Homo sapiens: one gene and its partners. The protein of the gene in region 3 interacts with the protein of the main gene of each other region in a biochemical or structural test. Each region holds a gene or a part of one and is shown on either strand. Other genes may lie near its edges. The genes, in order: CASP3, PPP3R1, BCL2, NLRP1, BNIP2, BMF and CAPN2.

Evidence for each region.
Region 1: of the proteins of BCL2 (region 3) and CASP3, one has a biochemical effect on the other in vitro, tested with the Homo sapiens proteins (one study listed by BioGRID).
Region 2: the proteins of BCL2 (region 3) and PPP3R1 form a complex in vitro, tested with the Homo sapiens proteins (one study listed by IntAct).
Region 4: the proteins of BCL2 (region 3) and NLRP1 form a complex in vitro, tested with the Homo sapiens proteins (one study listed by IntAct).
Region 5: the proteins of BCL2 (region 3) and BNIP2 form a complex in vitro, tested with the Homo sapiens proteins (one study listed by BioGRID).
Region 6: the proteins of BCL2 (region 3) and BMF interact in a test that uses a peptide from one of them, tested with the Homo sapiens proteins (one study listed by BioGRID).
Region 7: the proteins of BCL2 (region 3) and CAPN2 form a complex in vitro, tested with the Homo sapiens proteins (one study listed by BioGRID).

What each region holds. Positions count from the first base shown.
Region 1 is NC_000004.12:184,629,822-184,632,447, forward strand, and holds part of CASP3 (caspase-3 isoform a preproprotein), read right to left. Parts: intron 2,576-2,626; coding exon 2,447-2,575; intron 2,120-2,446; coding exon 1,944-2,119; intron 1,337-1,943; coding exon 1,216-1,336; intron 1-1,215. UniProt on the Homo sapiens protein: Thiol protease that acts as a major effector caspase involved in the execution phase of apoptosis. Following cleavage and activation by initiator caspases (CASP8, CASP9 and/or CASP10), mediates execution of apoptosis by catalyzing cleavage of many proteins.
Region 2 is NC_000002.12:68,183,033-68,186,532, forward strand, and holds part of PPP3R1 (calcineurin subunit B type 1), read right to left. Parts: coding exon 3,436-3,500; intron 1-3,435. UniProt on the Homo sapiens protein: Regulatory subunit of calcineurin, a calcium-dependent, calmodulin stimulated protein phosphatase. Confers calcium sensitivity.
Region 3 is NC_000018.10:63,309,770-63,313,269, forward strand, and holds part of BCL2 (apoptosis regulator Bcl-2), read right to left. Parts: intron 1-3,500. UniProt on the Homo sapiens protein: Suppresses apoptosis in a variety of cell systems including factor-dependent lymphohematopoietic and neural cells. Regulates cell death by controlling the mitochondrial membrane permeability. Appears to function in a feedback loop system with caspases.
Region 4 is NC_000017.11:5,513,618-5,516,063, forward strand, and holds the end of NLRP1 (NACHT, LRR and PYD domains-containing protein 1), read right to left. Parts: intron 1,901-2,446; coding exon 1,856-1,900; intron 1,457-1,855; coding exon 1,137-1,456; 3' UTR 501-1,136; downstream 1-500.
Region 5 is NC_000015.10:59,679,321-59,682,820, forward strand, and holds part of BNIP2 (BCL2/adenovirus E1B 19 kDa protein-interacting protein 2), read right to left. Parts: intron 3,195-3,500; 5' UTR 3,138-3,194; coding exon 3,088-3,137; intron 989-3,087; coding exon 921-988; intron 449-920; coding exon 272-448; intron 1-271.
Region 6 is NC_000015.10:40,089,635-40,091,879, reverse strand, and holds part of BMF (bcl-2-modifying factor), read left to right. Parts: coding exon 1-93; 3' UTR 94-2,245. UniProt on the Homo sapiens protein: May play a role in apoptosis. Isoform 1 seems to be the main initiator.
Region 7 is NC_000001.11:223,750,539-223,754,038, reverse strand, and holds part of CAPN2 (calpain-2 catalytic subunit), read right to left. Parts: intron 3,150-3,500; coding exon 3,064-3,149; intron 2,043-3,063; coding exon 1,968-2,042; intron 1,244-1,967; coding exon 1,083-1,243; intron 1-1,082. UniProt on the Homo sapiens protein: Calcium-regulated non-lysosomal thiol-protease which catalyzes limited proteolysis of substrates involved in cytoskeletal remodeling and signal transduction. Proteolytically cleaves MYOC at 'Arg-226'.

The DNA of each region.
Region 1 (2,626 bases), on a different chromosome or scaffold from region 3:
AAAGATGTATAAAAAGGATCATTGTAAGTAGCACAGTGTTCCAATCAGATTTCACCTTATTTTAATACTGACTTAGCCAAGAAACAAATTGCTTTGAGTGTCCTACTTGTCTACAGAGCATCTGAATAAAGTATAATAAACACACTACCAAGTATTGGTCCAAAAAGGGAAAATAGTATATTTATCATACTTTTTTTTCTAGGTTAACTATTAGACCCATTGCTTTTAACTTAGAGGTACTTTGCTTGGAAAGATGCCTAGAGGATAAGATAAACCATATTGAGCATATTTTAAAATGCAACACTGCTTAAGAATACATTTACCTAAAGTTTCCAAACTCTCCGACACCCTTAGCTGTGTGAGTAAATGGTGGTATAATCCACAAATGTTTATTTAGATGATGACGTGTGCAGCAGAACAGTAAAAACGTGGAGGTTAACGGCACATTCATGTATCGTTTTTTACCTTCTTTTCTCCCACTCCACATCTATCCTCTTGTATACTAGTCATGTTTATCTTTTTTATTTACTACCTTTCAAATAACTCCTGAGAAACGTACCTCTCTTCTTCTCTAAGATGCAGGGGAAGCTCTGACTTGGCCTCTGTTGCCACGTAATATTCTACCTGATATTAGTAGCGGAGATCTACCTGATAAAGTCCAATGAATGACATCGTGCTAGTCTACTCTACATATGCATATTTTCTTTTCTTTTTTTCCTTTGAGACGGAGTCTCACTCTGTCGCCCAGGCTGAAGTGCAGTGGTGCGATCTTGGCTCACTGCAACCTTTGCTTCCCAGGTTCAAGCGATTCTCCTGCCTCAGCCTCCCCAGTAGCTGGGATTACAGGCGTGTGCCACCATGCCCAGCTAATTTTTCTGTATTTTTAGTAGAGATGAGGTTGGCCAGGCTGGTTTTGAACTCCTGACCTCAAGTGATCCACCTGCCTCGGCCTCCCAAAGCGCTAGGATTACAGGCGTGAGTCACTGTGCCTGGCTATATATGCATATTTTCTAGCCAAACTTTTGGCTAAAGACAACTTTTTGAGACTTCTCTTTGATGAAGGTTCCCTAAAATATAGACAAGTTTTGATATCTTTAGGGATATCAAAATCTTGACAGTCTCTGAAACACACTTTTCATTGTATAATTCTATGATCAGTCACAGTTAATTCATTTAAAATCCACATGTAACATTCATTATGTGTAACGTTCTCACCAGGTGCTGTGGAGTATGCATACAAGAAGTCGGCCTCCACTGGTATTTTATGACACGCCATGTCATCATCAACACCACTGTCTGTCTCAATGCCACAGTCCAGTTCTGTACCACGGCAGGCCTGGGTGTTAGAAAATAAATATTTATTTATAAAAATTTGTGTGTGAACACATAACTTAGTTCTAAAAAATTGAAATGCTATGTAAAAATGGATGTTAATTGGCCGGGCGCGGTGGCTCACGCCTTTAATCCCAGCAATTTGGGAGGCCAAGGCGGGCGGATGACTTGAGGTCAGGAGATCGAGACCATCCTGGCTAACATGGTGAAACCCTGTCTCTATTAAAAAAAAATTTAAAAATTAGCTGGGCCTGGTGGCAGGCGCCTGTAGTCCCAGCTACTCAGGAGGCTGAGGCAGGAGAATGGCGTGAACCCAGGAGGCAGAGCTTGCAGTGAGCGGAGATCGCGCCACTGTACTCCAGCCTGGGCGACAGAGCAAGACTCTGTCTAAAAAAAAAAAAAAAAAAAAAAAAAAGGATGTTAATTATGCTGAGTCTTTTTGATATAAGTATAAAATTAAAATTTACTCTATATCTTTTAAGTGGTAAATAAATGAAAAGTAACAATAGTTCATTAGCTTCAGGAAAAAAATTATCCTTTGGATAATTTACAGTTGAGAATAGTAACCCCTGCTTAATCGTCAATAACCAAATCACTCAGTTAGACATTACCTGAATAATGAAAAGTTTGGGTTTTCCAGTTAGACTTCTACAACGATCCCCTCTGAAAAAGTTTGTTATTTTTTTCAGGTCAACAGGTCCATTTGTTCCAAAAATTATTCCTTCTTCACCATGGCTCAGAAGCACACAAACAAAACTGCTCCTTTTGCTGTGATCTTCTTTAGAAACTGTAAAGACATTTGCAAATAAAAGGAAAAAAAATCCATGACTTTATTCAACAACTTCAGATATACTGTATGGGAACATGATGAAGAAACTGAGACTAAAACTAAGAGGTCATCTTAACCTAACCTGGGGCACGGCAACACATCTCAAACCATTTTAGGAAGTTGGCATAAATAACTTTTTTTAAACTTCTTACTAAAGTATGTAAGATTAGGGTTATGTACAGTATAATTCCACAATTCTCATATTTTATTATACATATAATTATTGCTAGACCATAGTATAAAATTAATTGTACAATGAAGTTCATTCTAATTGTTTCTTCTTACCATCACGCATCAATTCCACAATTTCTTCACGTGTAAGATCATTTTTATTCCTGACTTCATATTTCAAGTTTCTGAATGTTTCCCTGAGGTTTGCTGCATCGACATCTGTACCAGACCGAGATGTCATTCCTTGGAACAGAAAGAATTACTTTTAATTGTATGGAAAACAAAGAATAACTA
Region 2 (3,500 bases), on a different chromosome or scaffold from region 3:
GGGGATCCTCCCTCTCACCATGCTGGACCCTCTGCTTCCTGGATCCTACACTCTCTACTTGTTTGATTTATGACCTTATTGCAGTGGGAGCACATCCTCCAGTAGTTTCCAAAATGAGAAGGCCTTACATACCTAAAAGTGTCTTTCTACTACCATTTGAGTGTATAGAGAATTTTAAGTTGGAAATAACTGTCCCTCAGAATTGCACAGGCAAAATGCTCCATGTTCTTGTGGGTTTCCCACACTGCTACTAAGAAATCTGGTGCCATTATGACTCCTGGTTGTTTATATGAAGCCCTTCTCCCAGCACTCCACCCTACCACCCCAGCTCTTTGGAAATCTGCAGAACCAGTTATTTGTTCCCACTGTCTCAAAATTTCATGACAGTGTGCCCAGGTCCAGATTATTTTTACAGACTATGCTAGATGCTCCATAAGCCCTCTCAGAAAACATATTATTTTTGGCTTTGGAGTATTTTCTTGATTCATTTTTGATTATTTATTTCCCTCCATTTTCCTTCTGGAATCCTGGCATTCGGGTGTTACAACTCCAAAAATAGGTATGTAAAATTACATTCCCAAGAGCTTTTTTATATATTATCCAACTTTTGTTTCAAAAATTCAATATACAATATCCCCAAGGATAATGACAGGTTTCAGTTTTCCTTTTAAAATTTTTACTGGTCTTGTCTAATCTGTTTGTTTTGAACTTATTTTTTTGGACCTGGTTTCATCTTTATATTCCATACACAGAGGTTTCCTTCAGTGTTTGGTGAGATCCTTGGCTTTGCTTCTGTAGAAAGGGCACTGGAACTCTGGGTGAATGATGGGGCTGTTAAGTGAGAGCTATACTTTGAATGATCTGGTAGCACCATTTCTTTGGGGAGATAAGATTTCCTAAAGAGGGCTCTTTCCCATCTCTTACCTAGACAGTGTAAGTCCAGCTGCTAGGGAGTCAGGAAGTCAGGTACAGAACAAGGGCACAGATGCCAATATGCAAATATGCTTACTGCCACTTAGCTCCCCAACACATATACCTCATCTCTGCCTCATGTTTCCCAGCCTAGAGACTCTCCCCAATCTCTTGATAGGGTGCAGGAGAGAGAGCTGTCCAGGGGAACAGAGTAGGGAAGGCGATCTTGTGTGTTCCAGTTCCTTCTTAAAACAGACTTTAACCAGTCTTTCTGTTTTTAGCCTCACTTTCATCCTCACTTCCAGTTGCTTGTGCCATCAATTTCTGAGCCTTTCACGGATTCTCCATTATAACCCAGCTTGTTTCTCAGATTTCCAAGCTGATAAAGCTTAGAATCATTCTGCTAGGTTAGTTAACCATTCAACTTTCTAAACGTTCTAAATTACCAAATTTAGATGCTGTCTCTTCTCTGCTCTTCATTTTTGTCCTTGTGAGTACATAACCCTTTCTAATTCATTGCATTTTATTGGAGTTTGGGGAGGAGGTAAAAATAAATTATACATGGGTTCAATACACCAACTTTAAGCCTGTCACTAATCATCTGTAAGAATTATTTGTATACATTAAGTACTCTGAAAATTTTAAAGTACATATATAGTATGCAATCTTTTAAAATAACTTCCAATCTTTCACTGTTATAGCTTGAGAAGTCAACATAAAAAGAACTCAATGAAGCCAGTTACAAGCGCTTGATCAATGTTTAGAAAAGTTGGTTTTAAAAACACAACGAACATTTTTCTCCACTCGTAAACTATGCCCCTTAAAAATACAAGCAAAAAGCAACTGATTACAAATACTGGTGGCCAGACACAGTGGCTCGTGCCTGTAATCCCAATGCTTTGGAAGGCTGAAATGGGACGATCGCTTGAAGCTAGGAGCTGGAGACCAGCCTGGGCAACATAGCGAGACCCCTGTCTACAAAAACTTAAAAATGGGCCAGGCGCAGTGGCTCACGCCTATAATCCCAGCACTTTGGGAGGCCAAGGCAGGTGGATCACAAGGTCAGAAGATCGAGACCATCCTGGCCAACATGGTGAAACTCCATCTCTATTAAAAATACAAAAATTAGCTGGGCCTGGTGGCATGTGCCTGTAATCCCAGCTACTCAAGAGGCTGAGGCAGGAAAATCACTCGAACCAGGGAGTCGGAGGTTGCAGTGAGCCAAGACTCTGCCATTTCACTCCAGCCTGGTGACAGAGTGAGACTCCGTTTCAAAAAAAAAAAAAAAGAAAGCTTAAAAATAAACTAAAATAAATATTGGAAAATAAACTCGAAACTTAGCTTATGTCTTCAATATAGATAACAGCATTATTTCTATATATAAAAGATATATTTTAATTTCCTTCCACTGATGTGATATACTTATTACATTTTATATTTGCTAAATGCAAGTAATCTTCATTTATATATTATATTTATATATTTATATTTCTTATATTTATATTATATTTATAATTTATATATTATATATATGTAAAATATACATAAGATATATACATTTTATTTATATATATATATATATCTCCCCTCTTCCAATACCATTGAAGCCAAGAATTTTCCATTTATTTTATTCCCCTAAGGCTTAGAATTTCTCCTTTCCTTCTTTTGAAAACTGGCTGCTATTTATGATGGCACAACCAGCCTGGTCTCATGTCACACTCCACCAAATGCCAGTTCACAGTGACCCTTGGCAATGGTGAAGGAGGTAAAACGGAAGGGACAGAAATGGCTTGCGGTAGCGCCCCCTGGGGGTAGTTCAGTGTCTTAAACGTCTCAAACCCATCTAACTCTTCCAAAAAAAGACGCAGTCTATTCTTTACAGTGCCACCCCACTTTTTGAAAACATAATAAAAAGATGGTTTTTGCTTAAGGATAATATGAACTTCTACTTAAAGGTCAAAGTAGCTACACTTCAGTTCTCACATAACACACAACTATCAAAATCACTTGTTTTTCCTTATATGATTTACATTTAAAAATAAAAAGGAGGAAGAAAATCTTTCTATGGAAGCATCCAATCATTACTGACAGAAAAATTTCAAAACTTTGTTATCTTTGCCTCTACTCTGGATGCTCTAGTTTTCTCTAGTATCTCTAGCTTGCAGTTTAAAATCCTTGTAACACATCAAAAAGCCTACTCTCTGTTTTTAGGGCATAAGTAGAGAAGAGAAGCTAAGTGGTTGTGGTTGTGCTTCTGTTCAGAAGCAATGAGTGATTAAATGAACCTTAAGAGTATAACCTAGTTGTAATTTGAGAGGCTACCAACAATAAGTAAAGTAGTATCCTTGGGAATAATAATTGTTAATAATTACAATGAAGAACACATTTCAAAACAATACGGGCAATTAGGAAAAATCAAATACTTAAGTTTTTAGGACAAAATATGGAAATTCTCTATTAAGTGGTTTTTAAAATATGTTGCTGAAACATAACTAACGGAAGAACCAGCTCTTTTGTACTTACAGCACAGAATTCTTCAAAGGATATTCTTCCATCTCCATCCTTATCTGCATTTATTATGGTTTTGT
Region 3 (3,500 bases):
CCAAAATCTGAAGATGCTCAAGTCCCTGATATTAAATGAGTAGTACTTGCATATGCACATCCTCCTATATACTTTATTTTATTTATTTGTTTGTTTATTTATTTATTTTTTGAGACAGAGTCTCGCTCTGTCCCCTAGGCTGGAGTGCAGTGACACGATCTCGGCTCACTGCAACCTCCGCCTCCTGGGTTCAAGCAATTCTCCTGCCTCAGCCTCCCGAGTAGCTGGGATTACAGGCGCCCACCACCACACCTGGCTAATTTTTCTATTTTTAGTAGAGAAAGGGTTTCACCATGTTGGCCAGGCTGGACTTGAACTCCTGACTTCAAGTGATCCACCCACCTTGAGCTCCCACAGTGCTGGGATTACAGGCCTAAGCCACTGTGCCTGCCCTACCCCATATATTTTTGATCCAAAGTTGGTTGAATCCATGGATGTGGAACCCAAAGATAGGGAGGGCTGTCTATACAAGTTTCACAACTTAGTATGCAGTGGTAAGTTCTCAAAACTATGGATTTATCTCAGGAGAGTTCTCCATGCCCCAGTCAAATCAGACTCTCCACAATTCCCCAAACACACCTCCCGCATTCATGCCTGCTTTGACGCCTCCAGTTTCCACTACCTGAAAGACCCTCTCCCCGTATCGCCTGCCTGTTCTCTAAAACTTGTCTCAACATTATCTCCGGCATGAAACTCTTCAGATACCACTGTAGCTGGGTTGGGCCTCTCTGTCTACTACACATTGTCCAGGATTACAGTGATTTGTATCCTTGTCTTGGTCTCCTACTGATTGGTAAGTTCCTTGAAGGCAAAAGTTATCTTAGACATTTTTTCGCTTAACTAAAACACCTAGCATAGAGCTTTGCATGGTGTAGGGCCTCAATAAATGTTTTTTTCAATGAAACAAGTTAGTGTGCATGTTTTCCTAAATAACCAGATTCTAAAACCCCTCTCCATGACCATCACTACCCCGGTTCCTGGGAACCCAGGGTTAAGTTTTGTGGACAATTGCTCATTTCCCTCAATTAGGACTTCTTCAAATCATTTTCTTCTTATACTATCACTTTAATGTTTAGTAAGTGGCTTTGTCTCCCTGTTCTTATAATTTTGTTATAAAATACCTCAAAACCTCTCTGTGTGTCTTCAGTGTGTGTGTTTTTAAAGATGCTGGCAGGAATCCATAAAGGATATGGCTAGGAGATAGCCCTGAAATTTTACATCCAGAAATGCCAATGCTGCCATCCTTTATGGACTCGCTTTTTTTTTTTCAAGAAGATAAATCAATATTTAAAGCTGATGATATAATTTGTACTTAATTTTATTCCTATTTTAATTGTAAATCAGATATCAATATATCTGAGATATAGCATTGAACTAAGAAGACTAAGTTTATGTGTCTCATGTTCTTTTAGAAAATTCTAATGCAGCTGAGAGGAATATTTGGCTGCAATTCAATTTCAGAGTTAATATAGAGATATAGCATTCATCATGTTGTAAAGCAGAAAAAATATCATCCTGGTTATCTGCTAAGGAGAGCTGGAAAAAGTCAAGAAGAGACAGCCTGCAACACTGATCCTTTGTTTGGTGCTTCAAGTATTAAAATTGGTAAACTCACCATACTCTGTTGCAGCTTAACTGTCTTTTCGACAGTTAAAAATAAGGAAATATGGTAACTGGATCTGTCACAAGAAAAGATGTATTGGTCTCAATGGAGAAAACCTCCCCTGAAAAATTAAAGCTTCACTTGACACAGTGGGTTCTCGGGTTGTTTTTGGGAGACATGATAATGAGCAGAGTGGAGTCAGTCATCAGTTTCTGACTCATTACATGGAAGCCCCAGAGAGCTGATTATTAACTAAAAATGGAATACGCTTCTATCCCTGAAGTTGTGAAGGCAAAACAAGAAGCAGAATGGAAACACAAATTTCCCCATTGACGCATGTGGCCCAAACGCGATGCTCAAGGGCAGGTGTCTTCCACAGTTAACCTGCTCATGGAATGTGGTTGATCGCCCCAGAAAATCACCCAAGTCACTCTCAGTATATTGCTACAAATGGCCATACCAGTATGTCAGGGAGATTCCCTTTCTCACATGTTTAAAAGGGCGTTTGGGGAAGTAGTCCTTACCCTAAGCTATTTTAGTTTAGTTAGTCAAACATTTATTGAAGTCTCAGGTATAACCCCACTATAATCTTGCACTAGAGGAATCAAAGTAAGTACAAATTTTGCCAGCAGATACTATCTTTTCTCTGCACAGGTTAAAGTTTATAATCACTAGAGGAAAAGGATAGTGTCTGGTCACAGAATTTTGACCTGCCCAGCTGCCTGCAGCAAGTTTGGGGTGAGGGTTATCCTCTCACTTTGATTAGACTCCCCACTTCTGCTCCCTTTTGCTAGTATCTAAGCGCATTACGGTTTTCTTCAGGTAAATCCTACCCATCACTAATTGGAAGTTAACAAGGAGCTACACCTGAGAGGTCCCTCACCGGTGGAATGATAAGGCAGGTAGGGGATGGTCACAGGGGTGGTGGCACCTATGAGAAAGTCCCATGGCTTGGAAGAGAGAGGAATAATCATTCAATCCTTATTCACACTGAAGGACAGATGGGTGTATCTTTTGTCTGGCAAATGGAGGGCAGAGAAATAGTGCTATAGCATATACAGAATTGGGCATATATAAGAACAACAAGTGACAATCTATAAAAATATGTTTTTAAGTGAAAACAGCTTTGTTGGCATTTTGAAAGTTTTACAGTCTCCATTTAAACGAACAGACCACAAGCCCAAAAAAGTCCGAAGGCAAATGCCAGTGTTACAATGGACTGTGAATTTCTGTAACTAGCATCGTAGAAGTGTCTTGATAAATAGAACAGTAATATAACCTCAAACCAAAACAAAACAGAAGCTTTTTTTTCCCCTGCTCAAAGGAAGAGCCCCCGCTCTGGTTCAAAACCTACTTGTATTTTTTGGCATACAAGAGTTATTTAAGAAAGATAGTTCTTCAAATTACCCTGTTCCAGTCAGTCTAATCGGAGCCTTGATTGTCTTTTACTTAAAAAGAATTAATGAAATGCTTTAGAAATTGTAGACTGGTGTTTATTAAGTCTTCTTAGTATGCATAAATAGTGCTTAGTGGGTTAATATTTAACAAGGGAACTCCCCCTGCCTTTCAGTTCTCTTAAGCATATGTCTACGTTACACAGTATTTTTTAAAGTATCTACATTTTGGCCCTGTTTAAATTAGGCCTAATGCACACATGAACAGCCATATGGTCAGAAATAACGTTCTTAGACCAAGGCTGAAGTACATGCAAAATAACTTATAGTTATTTGCTTTTTTCCTCTAAGTCTCTGAGTCTAGGATCATGCTTATCAGGCTGTATGATAACTACGAGTTTATTAAGATGCCTGCAACACTAGCCTGTGAGTTTATCCAGGGCAGAAGCAAAGCTCTCCTTGCCGTGCCTCCAACCTAACCCAAGGCAGGACTCATGTAAGAC
Region 4 (2,446 bases), on a different chromosome or scaffold from region 3:
CTATGCCTCCAGAGCAGGTAGGGATGATGGCCCCTGTTCAGCATGAAGCAGTGACAGAAGATAGATCTCTGTCCTTCTACAACCTCTTAAGATTAAGGACGAGTATGTAATGTCTGAGGTGGGGATAAGATAGGAGGTTGGCAGGACTGGTTTCACAAAGACTCCTCGTATAAAACAGGATGTGGTAAAGAAGCCAAAACCCATCAAACCAAGATGGTGATGAAAGGGACCTCCGGTTGTCCTCGCTGCTCATTATATGCTAATTTTAATACATTAGCATACTAAAAGACATTCCCACCAGCGCCATGACAGTTTACGAACGCCATGGCAGCATCTGGAAGTTTCCCTAAGTAGTCTGAAAGGGGGAAGAACCTTCAGTTCCAGGAATTCCCACCCCTTTCTCTGGAAAACTCATGAATAATCCACTCCTTGTTTAGCACACGATCAAGAAATAACCACAAAAATAGCCAACCAGCAGCCAGTCGGGACTGCTGTGCCTATGGAGTAGGTAACTTCTTATTCCTTTATTTTCATTTTTTCTTTTTTGTATTTTTTTAATTCTTAAATTTAAGTAAAAAATTTTTAATTTATAGGGGTTTTCTGGTAAAAACTGGAAAGCCTGCTAGACAAATTCTAAAAGAGCTGTGATACTCCTTTATTTTCTGAATAAACTTCCTTCCACTTTACTCTGTTGGCTTGCTCTTGTAGATCTTCCTGTACAAAGCCAAGAATCCACGTGGCCTCCCACGCTGAACCCCAATTTTGGGGCTCACCCTGTGACACAGCCAGAGGCAAATGGTTCCATGTCCCTCCTATTCCTCTTTGCGCCTGGATGGGATCCGGAGGGCTCTAGGCTTGGCTGCTGTGGCCACCAGATGAGGCTCTATGAGGTCTGCAGGGGTCTTGCCAGCTCCAGATGGACATTCCCTGAGATGCTGTTAGGCCACCTGGACTGGGGCCCCCTGTGGCATCCCTGGCATGGACACATAATGCCCAGCAAAGGCATCATCAAAGTTCCATTACTTTAGTGCTGGAAGGCAAACCAGATGGCAACTTGTTTGCAGAGAAAGAAACTGAGACCCAAAGAAGGGTCAGCCAAAGCCAGGACTCAAGGGTCAAGGGCTGGTGTTGATACTTCAGCTGCTGAGTGGCAGGAGTCCCTTTTTGCTGCCCTTCTCCCAGAGTTCCATAATGAGGTGAGGATGGGTCTCCTTCAGGGCTTGGTAGAGTCCATCTTTGCACTTCCGGTCCCAGGACTGGCTCAAGCTGAACAGCTTCCGCATCTGGCTGGGCCTCGTGTTCTCAGCCAGCACCCTCTCGTACTGCTCCTGGCTCAGCACCTGTCCATGCAGTTTGTCCAAGACAACCTCCACCGATGTCACTCGGGCTATCAGCTGCTCTCGATACTGGTCCACAAAGTGCAGCAACTGCGGGGCATCCAGAGGTGAAGGTACGGCTGGCAACGAACAAAGAAGGGCTCCAACCACAGCCTCCACCTCCAATCCCCACCTTCAGTGCTTTCCTCTCTCATCTCTGCATCCCTCGCTTCCTTCTGCCTCCAGAAATGCACCTGTGTCCTCCCTCATGGCAGCATCTAGCTTGGCATTCTGCCAGAGTGGGGATCGGGAGTGGGGTTCCTGCTGGGCACATTGGAGGCTGTCAGATAAGGAATTCTAGGGTCTCTGTGGATAGGACAAGGGGGTATGGGGAGCGACCATGCACCGCTCTCCAGGGCCTGACTCTTTGTGAGGTTTGCAGTGATGAGTCCCTTCCTTTCTCTCTTCCCTTCCCCCAGAACCAGACAGTACCCCAGAACTGCCACCGCCTCCTGTGGTCTCTGAGAGCTGTTACTGACCTATGCGGGCTGGAGGGATCAGAGTAGTTGCAGGCATGAGATCTCCTGGAGGAAAACAGAGATGAAGATGCATCTGAAACAGTGCTAAGTTATTAACACACATGGTACACCTCCAAGCTCCCACTCACTTCTGAGATTCTTTGATTTAGAAAAAAGCCACAGACAAATTCTGGTAGAATCTGGAGTAAGAGCTGGAAGGGTCCTTAGAGGTTATTTAGGTGAATCCCTTCCTTATGCATATGGGGAAACTGAGGCTCAGAAGCTGTGATCATACAGTAATAGAAGACATCCAAATGAGCGATAGCAATTTCTCCTATAACATCCCAGACTTGGTTTTAATCCCGTGTTGGCCTGAATTGTATCCCTGGTGAACTAACCAAACCCCTTGCTAGATAGCTTGAACTATTTAGCACCTCCTTGTCTGAGCAGAAATCTACTTCCTTGTTCTTGTTTAGCCTTCTAGACTGGCACCAACCAAAGGTGTACGTTCTGGATTTGGATGTCAGAATCTAGAATCAAGATCAAGCAATCTTAGGACATGGGAATAACAAATTAATTTTAACAGAAAAAACAGACAACGACAAAAATGAA
Region 5 (3,500 bases), on a different chromosome or scaffold from region 3:
ACTTGATTGACTAAAAAAGAGCATGCCATAATTATCAAGAAATATTTTTGAAACAGCTATGAAAAAAACATGAGAGCAGTGGGCAAATAAGAGGGGAAAAAAGCCACTGGTGTACTCTATACACACTTTTTAAGTCCTTGAGAATATTCAAGGGTTAGCACAATTTCCTATCTTAGTAACAAATATATGAACTTTAGAAAGAATGATGTATTTCAAACAAAATCCCTTAGTACATTAATAAAGATCAGATTAAAAACAGTGAAACATTTACCTTCCCACTCAAACTCATTACTATTCTCTGACGGTGTGTCTAAGCCATCTAAGTCAATCTCCCCACTTTCATCCAAATCATCTGACAATACAGAGCCATCACTAGGATCCAGTGTCAGGCTAATGTCTGGAGCCATTAGTTTCTTTCTCACTTTATTTCCATTAACTTCTAGTGAGCCTGGAATTGGAAAATAAAGAAAAAGATACGTAACAAGGAATGCTTAGATGCTAAAGTTGAATAAGAAAAATTTTAACTACCCCATTCTTGGGAAAAAATAATATTAATTGAACATAATTTCAAAGCACCTATTCACAAAATTTTTATTCTGATCATTATTGCTTCTACATCGTTGGCAAGAGATCAATAAAGTATCAATGTCTTTTAAATAGAGGCAGACCTTATAGATACCTCTTACCACTAAAAATGATCTCCTCCACCCCTTTACTGTAAAACTTTCCAAAAACCAAGTGTATGTTTTTGGAATTTTTTTTAAAGCATTCTAAAAATGCTTTCCTCAATGTTCAACTTATACTTTGACTTCTATGATGGAATAAAAACTCAAGTTTTTTTTTTTTTTGGACAAAGAAACGTGTTTTAAAAAATAACACAAAGTCCATAATTTCAATGAAAGTAAGTGTCAAGCTCTTACCAGGCTGGTCCTCTGGTCCAGTTATAGCTAGTATATCTGCTTCAATACTATCATCTTCTGGTAAAGGTCTAGAAGACACAGGCATACTTTTTAATCCAGAAATTAAGAAAGAATTTTTTTTTGAAGTTCAATCTATTAAACATACAGCTTATAGAAATAATTATTTGGAAAATGGAATAAAGCAGTGTTGTTGTTTTTGAGACAGGGTCTTGCTGTCTGTCACCTAGGCTGGAATACAATGGCACAATCATGGCTCACTGCAGCCTTAACTCCTGGGCTCAAGAGATCCTCCCGAGTATCTAAGACTACAGGTGCGTGCCACGACGCTTGGCTAATTTTTAGTAGAGACAGGGTCTTGCTATGTTACCCAGGCTGGCCTTGAACTTTTGGGCTCAAACGATTCTCGTGCATTGACCTCCCTAAGTGTTGGGATTACAGGCATGAGCCACTGTGCCCAGCCTAGCAGTGTTTAAGATAAAGTCTCAGCCTTCTGAGTAGCTAGGACTACAGTGGCACACCAACATGCCCAGCTAATTTTAAAAGTTTTTTTGGTAGAGACCGGATATTGCTATGTTGCCCAGGCTGGTCTCAAGCAATCCTTCTGCCTCGGCCTCCCAAAGCACTAGGATTATAGGCGTGACGTGCTATGCCTGGCTACACTTTCAAAGTAAAAATTCTGACTGTCAGAGCTGACTTATACACTTATTATATATAAGTAACACATAAAAGTAGATATAAATTCCTTATGCAACAGCTCTTATACAATTATAAAACATGTAACAATTTTAAACAAATATGACTGAAATGCACAAATATAATGTGATGTATGATGCAATGTATGAAGCTCAATTTTTACTCACGAGACTACAGTAACAATGGTTCAATTCTTCTGAGATCAGCATTCCTATATTTACTATCACCACCATATGCAACAGTGACTCAGGTCTCCGATCAGCTGTCCAACTGCTAAGCTATCCAACTGCTAAGGCACCTGATTATGCACTAGGATGTCTTCTGACAAGTACGGCACGGAAGCACTATTTAAACTTAAGGTCTGCCTTTGCTCTCTTTTTCATTAGCCTACCTGGTGCCAATATAATTGTAAATACAAATGCAAACATGTCAAGGTGGCTGGCCAGATAAGCTAGAAAATCCTTATTAATTTACTTAGTAAGGTTTTTTTTTTTTTGGTGGGGGGGAACCCACAAATTTTTTTTTTTTTTTTTGAGATAGAGCCTTGCTCGGTCGCCCAAGCTGGAGTGCAGCAGCGCGACCTTGGCTCACGGCAACCCCTGCCTCCTGGGTTCAGGTGATTCTTGTGCCTCTGCCTCCTAAGCAGCTGGGACTACAGGCGAGCGCCAAGCCTGGCTAATTTTTTGTATTTTTAGTAGAGACGGGGTTTCACCATGTTGGCCACGTTGGTCTCAAACTCCTGGCCTCAAGTGATCTGCCTATCTCGGCCTCCCAAAGTGCTGGGGTTACAGGCGTGAGCCACCGCACCTGGCCACAAAATTAAAGAAACATTTTAAAGACAACTAAAGACCTCCTTCTCTGAGGAATCCCTCAGATCTTGTTTAAATGAAAACAAAAACAAAACAAAACAAACAAACCACACTAAAACACTTTATTATAAAAGCAAAAATTTGCAAACTTAAGTGACCAAAACAAAAATGAAAGATTATAGAAGATTATATATATACTTGGTTGGAAAGTAAGATACAAGAGAATCAATCTAACTGTTCCGAAGAAACTTTACTTCCTAGTATCAAATGATCGCCTTGTATTACTGAGTTTCTCAGTGACATCTCAGCTGTGCAGTGGCTCACACCTGTAATCCCAGCACTTTGGGAGGCCAAGGCAGGCAGATCACGAGGTCAGGAGTTTGAGACCAGCCTGGCCAATATGGTGAAACACCGTCTCTATTAAAAATACAAAAATTAGCCAGGCGTGGTGGCGCACACCTATAGTCCCAGCTACCTGGGAGGTGGAGGCAGAAGAATTGCTTGAATCCAGGAGGCGGAGGTTGCAGTGAGCTGAGATCGCGCCACTGCACTCCAGCCTGGGCAACAGAGCAAGACTCCGTCTCAAAAAAAAAAAAAGTAACATCTCGATAAAGAAATTTTGAACTTTTGCTCTAAAATTGTTTTCTTTTAAAAGCATTGCTCACATCGGAAAATCTTCATCTTGCCATTCTTCTTTAAGTTCCACACCTTCCATCCTCAGCCTGGATTCAATGTCAACTACAAACTCTTGATAATCCAGGGAGCCAATGTCCTATGAAGAGAGAAAAATGTATAACTTAATTTCCACTTTACTTTTTATCCACTGAAAAGGCGTAATAATCTTATATATTAGTTCATACTTGATGTTTAGTACAATGGTCTGGTCATGAAATTCATTTACAGGGTTGCAATTTTTTTTTTTTTTTAAAGAAAAGAGAATACTCAGACTACATATATTCTGGGAAAGTTAAATACTGTTTATAGTAAGGATACTGTTCAGTGAAAATACTTGTTTTCAGTTGCATGTATAGTATCTCAGGTTATGATTGAAAATATATTTCATACTATGGATTATATT
Region 6 (2,245 bases), on a different chromosome or scaffold from region 3:
AACCAAAATCGTGTGTGGTGGCAGATCCTCCTCTTCCTGCACAACCTTGCTTTGAATGGAGAAGAGAACAGGAACGGGGCAGGCCCTAGGTGAGGGTGGGCTGCCCTCTTCACATGGGGCACCAGGAACACCGTCTGGAACAGGAAGGACATCGGGCAGGACTGACACTGTGTCTTGTGAAATTGTTTTTTTGTTGTTATTTTGTGTTTTAATTTTTTTTAATTTCTCTCTGAGTGTACATACAACATACTCAAGCGGGACCTTCTTTCTCTGTCAGGCCCTTGACCTGGAATGGGGGCCTTTGTCAAACACTGTTGAAGGAGAGGCTGATGTGTCTGTGATGGTGAGAATTCCCAAGGGCTCTGACAAGTAGATTCTTCGACTGAGGAATCTACCAGTTGTCGAAGATGATCCGTTAGTGATGTTCTCTGGGAAGTGGACTGTGGTTTTTCCAGAGGAACTCAGTTAAGAAATCGAGAGTGGATTAGACTCCCAGTTCCACCAAACCTATGAGCCTTCCACTGTGGATGGGGGCCGTGATCCTGATGGTCACATTGCTTTAACCCAGCAGGGCTTCGGCCAGGGGCTTTCCACTTGAGGATAGCAGCTTCACTAGGCTGGCCGGCCAGCTCCACATCTGACTGGGTTCTTACTTCTCAGCCAGTACCTGCCCCATGGGCTCAAGGATTCCTGGCCAGCTCCTGCCACCTCCAGCAGACCTCAGGGAGGGTTGAGTTTCTCTAAGGACCCCTCAAACATGTCGCAAAATGAACCAAACTTCTGGCTAGGCCTCAAAACTGACTTGGTCCCACTTGGAGGCCCCAGGATTGGTCCTGAGGTACAGAGCCACTGCCACCACTGGCGGCCTGGGACCAGCTGGGTGTCAGCCACGGATGAGCCGAATAGCCAGTCAGCATGTTGCTGCTGGCAGCCTGTGCCTTTGTCAGCTCTTCTTTCAAAAGACCCCACCGACAGACCGCATTCCACCCCCAACATCGGCACTGAGGGACATCGGGGGCAAGTTTGCAGTGGGGCCGGAAAATATGGTGGCCACCCTACCATGAGAGTCAGCCGTAGGGGACCCCAGACCCCTTGGTTTCCTTGGAAACAACATACCTCTTCCCCCTTATCCCCAGTCCTTTTTCATACCTAGTGGGATACAGAAGAAGCCAGGACAGTGGCTTTGCCAGCTAAGTGACTTTTAGAGTAACAGATAACGATTAGAGTGGGGAACCGTCAAAGCTGGGTACACATTTCCTATCTTCCTCCAGCTTCCAGCTAGGCCAGAAGGGCATGCTCTGGAACCCAGCAGGATCACAGCTGCCTGTGCACGTCTTCCCTTCTCTCCCTGCTGCGGCACTTATGGAGAGGATCTAAAGCAGCCGGTGTGGCAGCTCCGATAGCAGGCACAGGGAATCTGTTAACCAGACGCTAGAAACTAAATTATAACTTTTGCATATGTGAGAAAAGACAACATTGGTGCTAACAGTGAAGTAAGGCCCAAAGGAAAGACGGCTTCCCTGGACAAAGAAGACCTCAGGGCTACCCAAGGAAATAGGAGGAGTCTAGAGTAGACTCACAAATCTGAACAAGCCCAAGTCTTCCAGTTCTGAGGAGAGGAGGTCTTCAGTACTATTGAAGGAGACATTGATCTTCTGGATGTACAGTTGTGCAGGTTGTTCACTGCACAAGGGCACCTGCAGCTAATGGAGGCTGGAATTCAGCTTGTGTTCTGCTCACTAAGCTGTGTGCGTGCCCTGGTGTGGGGCTACTTCTCCCAAGAAGAAGGGGTGCCTTTCCTAATTTGCAAAGGTGCCATATGGGCTCACAGCACCCTGGAGGAGAAGGGCCTCAAACTGTGCATGTAAGCCTTTGTTTTGTTCTGCTCAGATATTCTGGATATTACCTCTTCTTGGTCAGAATTCTATTCTCAGGGTGTGTACCATGATTTGTCTGCTAAGAAGACGGGTTCCTGCTTTGCAGAGAAGGAGCCGGGGACCAGCTTGAAGACTGGCTCTGGGACACACTGACCATTGTGAAATTCAGCCTTCCCTGTGGGTCTCCATACCATTTTATGATGTGTATGGGACATACGTTGTTCTCCCCTCTCTGGATCAAGGTGGTGACAGGCAGCCTGCTGCCGTATGCTTCAGTGGCACACACCAAAAAACCGGGATTATTTACAGCAGCCACTATTCACCCCTTTTGGCAGACTCTCCACCTGAGTTCAGTGAGAGAGAAAATG
Region 7 (3,500 bases), on a different chromosome or scaffold from region 3:
TCTTAGAGATGGAGGTGATAAGAAAGTGCCTGCCTCAGAAGTTTGTTGGGAAGGTTAGATAGAATGTTATGCAGGCTGAATATCCCTTATCTGAAATTCCTGGGGCCAGAAGTGTTTCCTATTTTGGATTTTTTTGGATTTTGGAATATTTGTATATACATAACATATCTTAGGGATGGAACTCAAGTCTAATGACAAAACTCATTTCTGTTTCATATATAATTTATACACATAGGCTGAAGGTAATTCTATAGCATATTTAAAATAATTTTGTGCATGAAACAAAGTTTTGACTGTGTTTTGACTGCGACCTGTCACCTGAGGTCAAGTGTCGAATTTTCCACCTGTGGTATCATGTTGGGGCTGAAAAAGTTTTGGATTTTGGAGCATTTCAGATTTCACATTTTCAGATTATGGATCCTCACCCTGTGTACAAAACACTTAGGATAGTTCCAAGCACTGAAGGTGTGCCCCATAATTGGCAGATGTCATCATGTTCAGACAACTGCTGACGGACTAAGCCATGAAGGCAGAAGAATCAAGGGGCTCAACAAAGGCTGGACCAGAGGAGAAATCTTCACCCCATCTGGGCAGCGCCCAGTCAACATTTGCTGATTGAAGTGAGTATGGGGCAACAAACAGGGCCTGATATGTGGAGGGCTCCCTGGGTGCCGGGACAAGGTTCCCTTGTAGGCTCGGCTGCCTGGGTGTGGGGTGCATAGAGCAGCTCATGGCCGTGAAGTGGGATTGAGCACTGCTTCCGTGAGCATGGCGGAAGGTCAGGCTGAAGGTCATGATGGGCGCTGGGGAATCTAGGGCCTGGAGAGGACATCACAGAAACAGTGGCTCTTGGGTTTGTCCTGGGTAGGGCAGGAGGTAAGGGATTGAGAAAGAGAGCTCGGGGAGAAAAGGCTCAGGGAAAAGAAAAGGCTCAGGGAGAAAGAAGACAGAGAGGGTTCCAGTGAGCAGGAGCTGCCTCCTGGGGCTGCTAGGCTGGGGTGTGGTACACAGGGTGGGGTAAGGGGAGCTTTGGCCTTTGGTGGCCCCGCATTGCAACAGCCCTTATATGCAACAGCCCTTACTCGGGTAGTTCCTGCAACCTCCCGCGGTGGAGCCCCGCCTCCAGTTCCCATCCATTTTGGTGAGTTTCCACTTCTTGTAGGTATCGCTGGTGAGAGTGTCTGGGGTCAGGTTACAGATCTCCAGGCGGGAATAGTGCCTCAGGAAGTCACTGAAAGACATCCTGGCAAAAGCAGAGACAATCATCACAGGTGATAAGAAGACACACTGGTAAGCCTTGACTTTCCACCAACACCAGACCAGGAGCCACCCAAAGCCAGGCAGAGCAGCTCATTAGAACTGAGTGGATGGGCACCAGGTTCAGAATCAGAAGGCCCAGATTCCAGTCCTGGCGCTGCAACTTTCTAGCTGGGTGACTTTGAGCAGGTTACTTAAACTTCTCTGAAGCTCAGAACTCTCACCTGCAAAAATGGGAGCCGTGCCCATCAAATGTGACAATATATGGGCCCCATTTGATAAAGAGCATGTTGTGTCCAGGTGCAGGTGGTTATAGAGTGGCGCAGACACACAGACATGTGGGTCCATTGCTGCTCACTAAGGGACCAGTTTCTTAAGGGGCTGGGATGAGTCTCCGGAACCTGGGGGAGAAAGGCCCCATCTTTCCCTTGTTTCCTGGGATCTGAACATTACCAAAGGAATTCCTCTTAGCCTTTTTCTGAAGCTGCTCAGCTTATAAACCCCATTGTCAAGATGGACCGTTGAAGGGGCTTAAGAATTTCTTTATTCAGGCTCTTATAGTGAACTTAAAATAACAAAACCAGGATCCCACACGCTTGTGTCCTCGACATGGTAAACTCACTTTGGCCGACACTCTTTCTAATTAGCAGTTTTCTAGTAAAGAACATTGGGGCAGACAGAGCTTTCCCTGAAGCCTCCACTAATCTTACCAGAATTCTCCATCTTCATGCCGTCTGGTCAGCCTTTCCCTCTCCTCTGGGTCTATAGTGTTCCAGCTTGGGCAGCTGGAAAACAAAGTAAAGAGAGAGGCGTTAGTGTACGATGATTTCTCCCCAAAGGCCCCAGAGTTGAGGAAGAGGGACATCTGCTCTCACCTCTGAGGGCTCAGGCTCCAGAAAGGGGGAAAGTAGCCCACATCTGGCTAACAGCTGCATTTTAATACTCTTACAGCACTTTAAAGAGTATAGAACACTATACAGATGCAAACCAGGGAGCAAAGTGAGCGGGTGAGTTGTGCTGGAAGACAGTGGCAAGGAAGAGTCCAGAAAATGAACATAGTTCATTAGAGGGAGATGGAGTAGCTCAGAGCAGTTGCCCAATTGAGATGGGCCTGGCAGCTCTTTTAGAGACAACTGAAGATCTGATGAGGAGCCTCCGGCTGAGGCCTGGGAAGCCTCAGCAGGTGTCTCTCTGTCCACGGAGCAGAAGGACCTGGCCCTGTACACAGGGGCAGTGCACAGGGTAAACTAACCACTGCCTGAGCTTTGGCTGGAATTACACACAGGCCTCTGTACTGCCCACCTCTCCAACCTGAGGCAGAGCAAGTAGGCTGAGGTTGCCACAGCAGATGTACAAACAAGTGTTTACCCCAAATAGTTGAGGGTTCAACATGCCTACCAGTAAGCCCTGGAAATCAACAGAGGGATGTTTCTCTGGCCTTTGGTACAAAGTTCACATCCCTGTAATAGAAGTGCCTGGGGGAAGGTGGGGTGTATTTTTTTCCCTGAAAGCCCCATAGAAGGGTGGATTTGAGCTAGGGAAGGGGTGAACCTGGAGGCAGTGGCAGGAATGAACTTCACACGAGCAGCTTGGGGCCTGGAAGAAGGCACTCAGGCTGCTGGAGGAGTGTCCTGGTTAAAAGACCCTTTGAGGGGCCCCTGTCCACGGGTCCCTGTCCACGTGGCCTGGGCTCTCCTGGCTATATTTCTCAGAATAATGCACATGTCTTCTTCTCTCGCCCTCTTCCCAGAGCCTCCCAGCACAATGCACCCCCGCCTGGGGCCCCGAGGCCTGCGCCCTCCTCACTTGTCATTCCACCGCCCTGTCCACTCCACTTCTCCCCAGGGATTTCGGATGCGGATCAGTTTCTGTAGGCTTCCGTTACTTTCAACCTGCAGGATTAGATAAAAGGGAGGAGTAAGAGGTTGAGTTCAAGTCAGGGCTATGAAGGCTTGGGCCTCCAACCCCCTTCCGCATGAGCCAGGAGGTATGGGGCTGAGGACGGTGGGGAGGATTTGGGGGTTGAGTCCATGTATGAGGGAGGATCACAAGAGCTAGAGGGGGCTTGGCACCCAGACCTCTCACTGCTGCCTAGCTTTGGAAAATGAGATTTAAAGCTCCCAGGATCCGGCTCTCGAGGATGGGGCTGTTGGTGCTTCATCTCTGAACTTCAGCTTAACTGACAGGATGCGCTTTTGGTAAAGGAGCTCAGAGAAGCTTTACCATTTGTTGAAAGATCACTG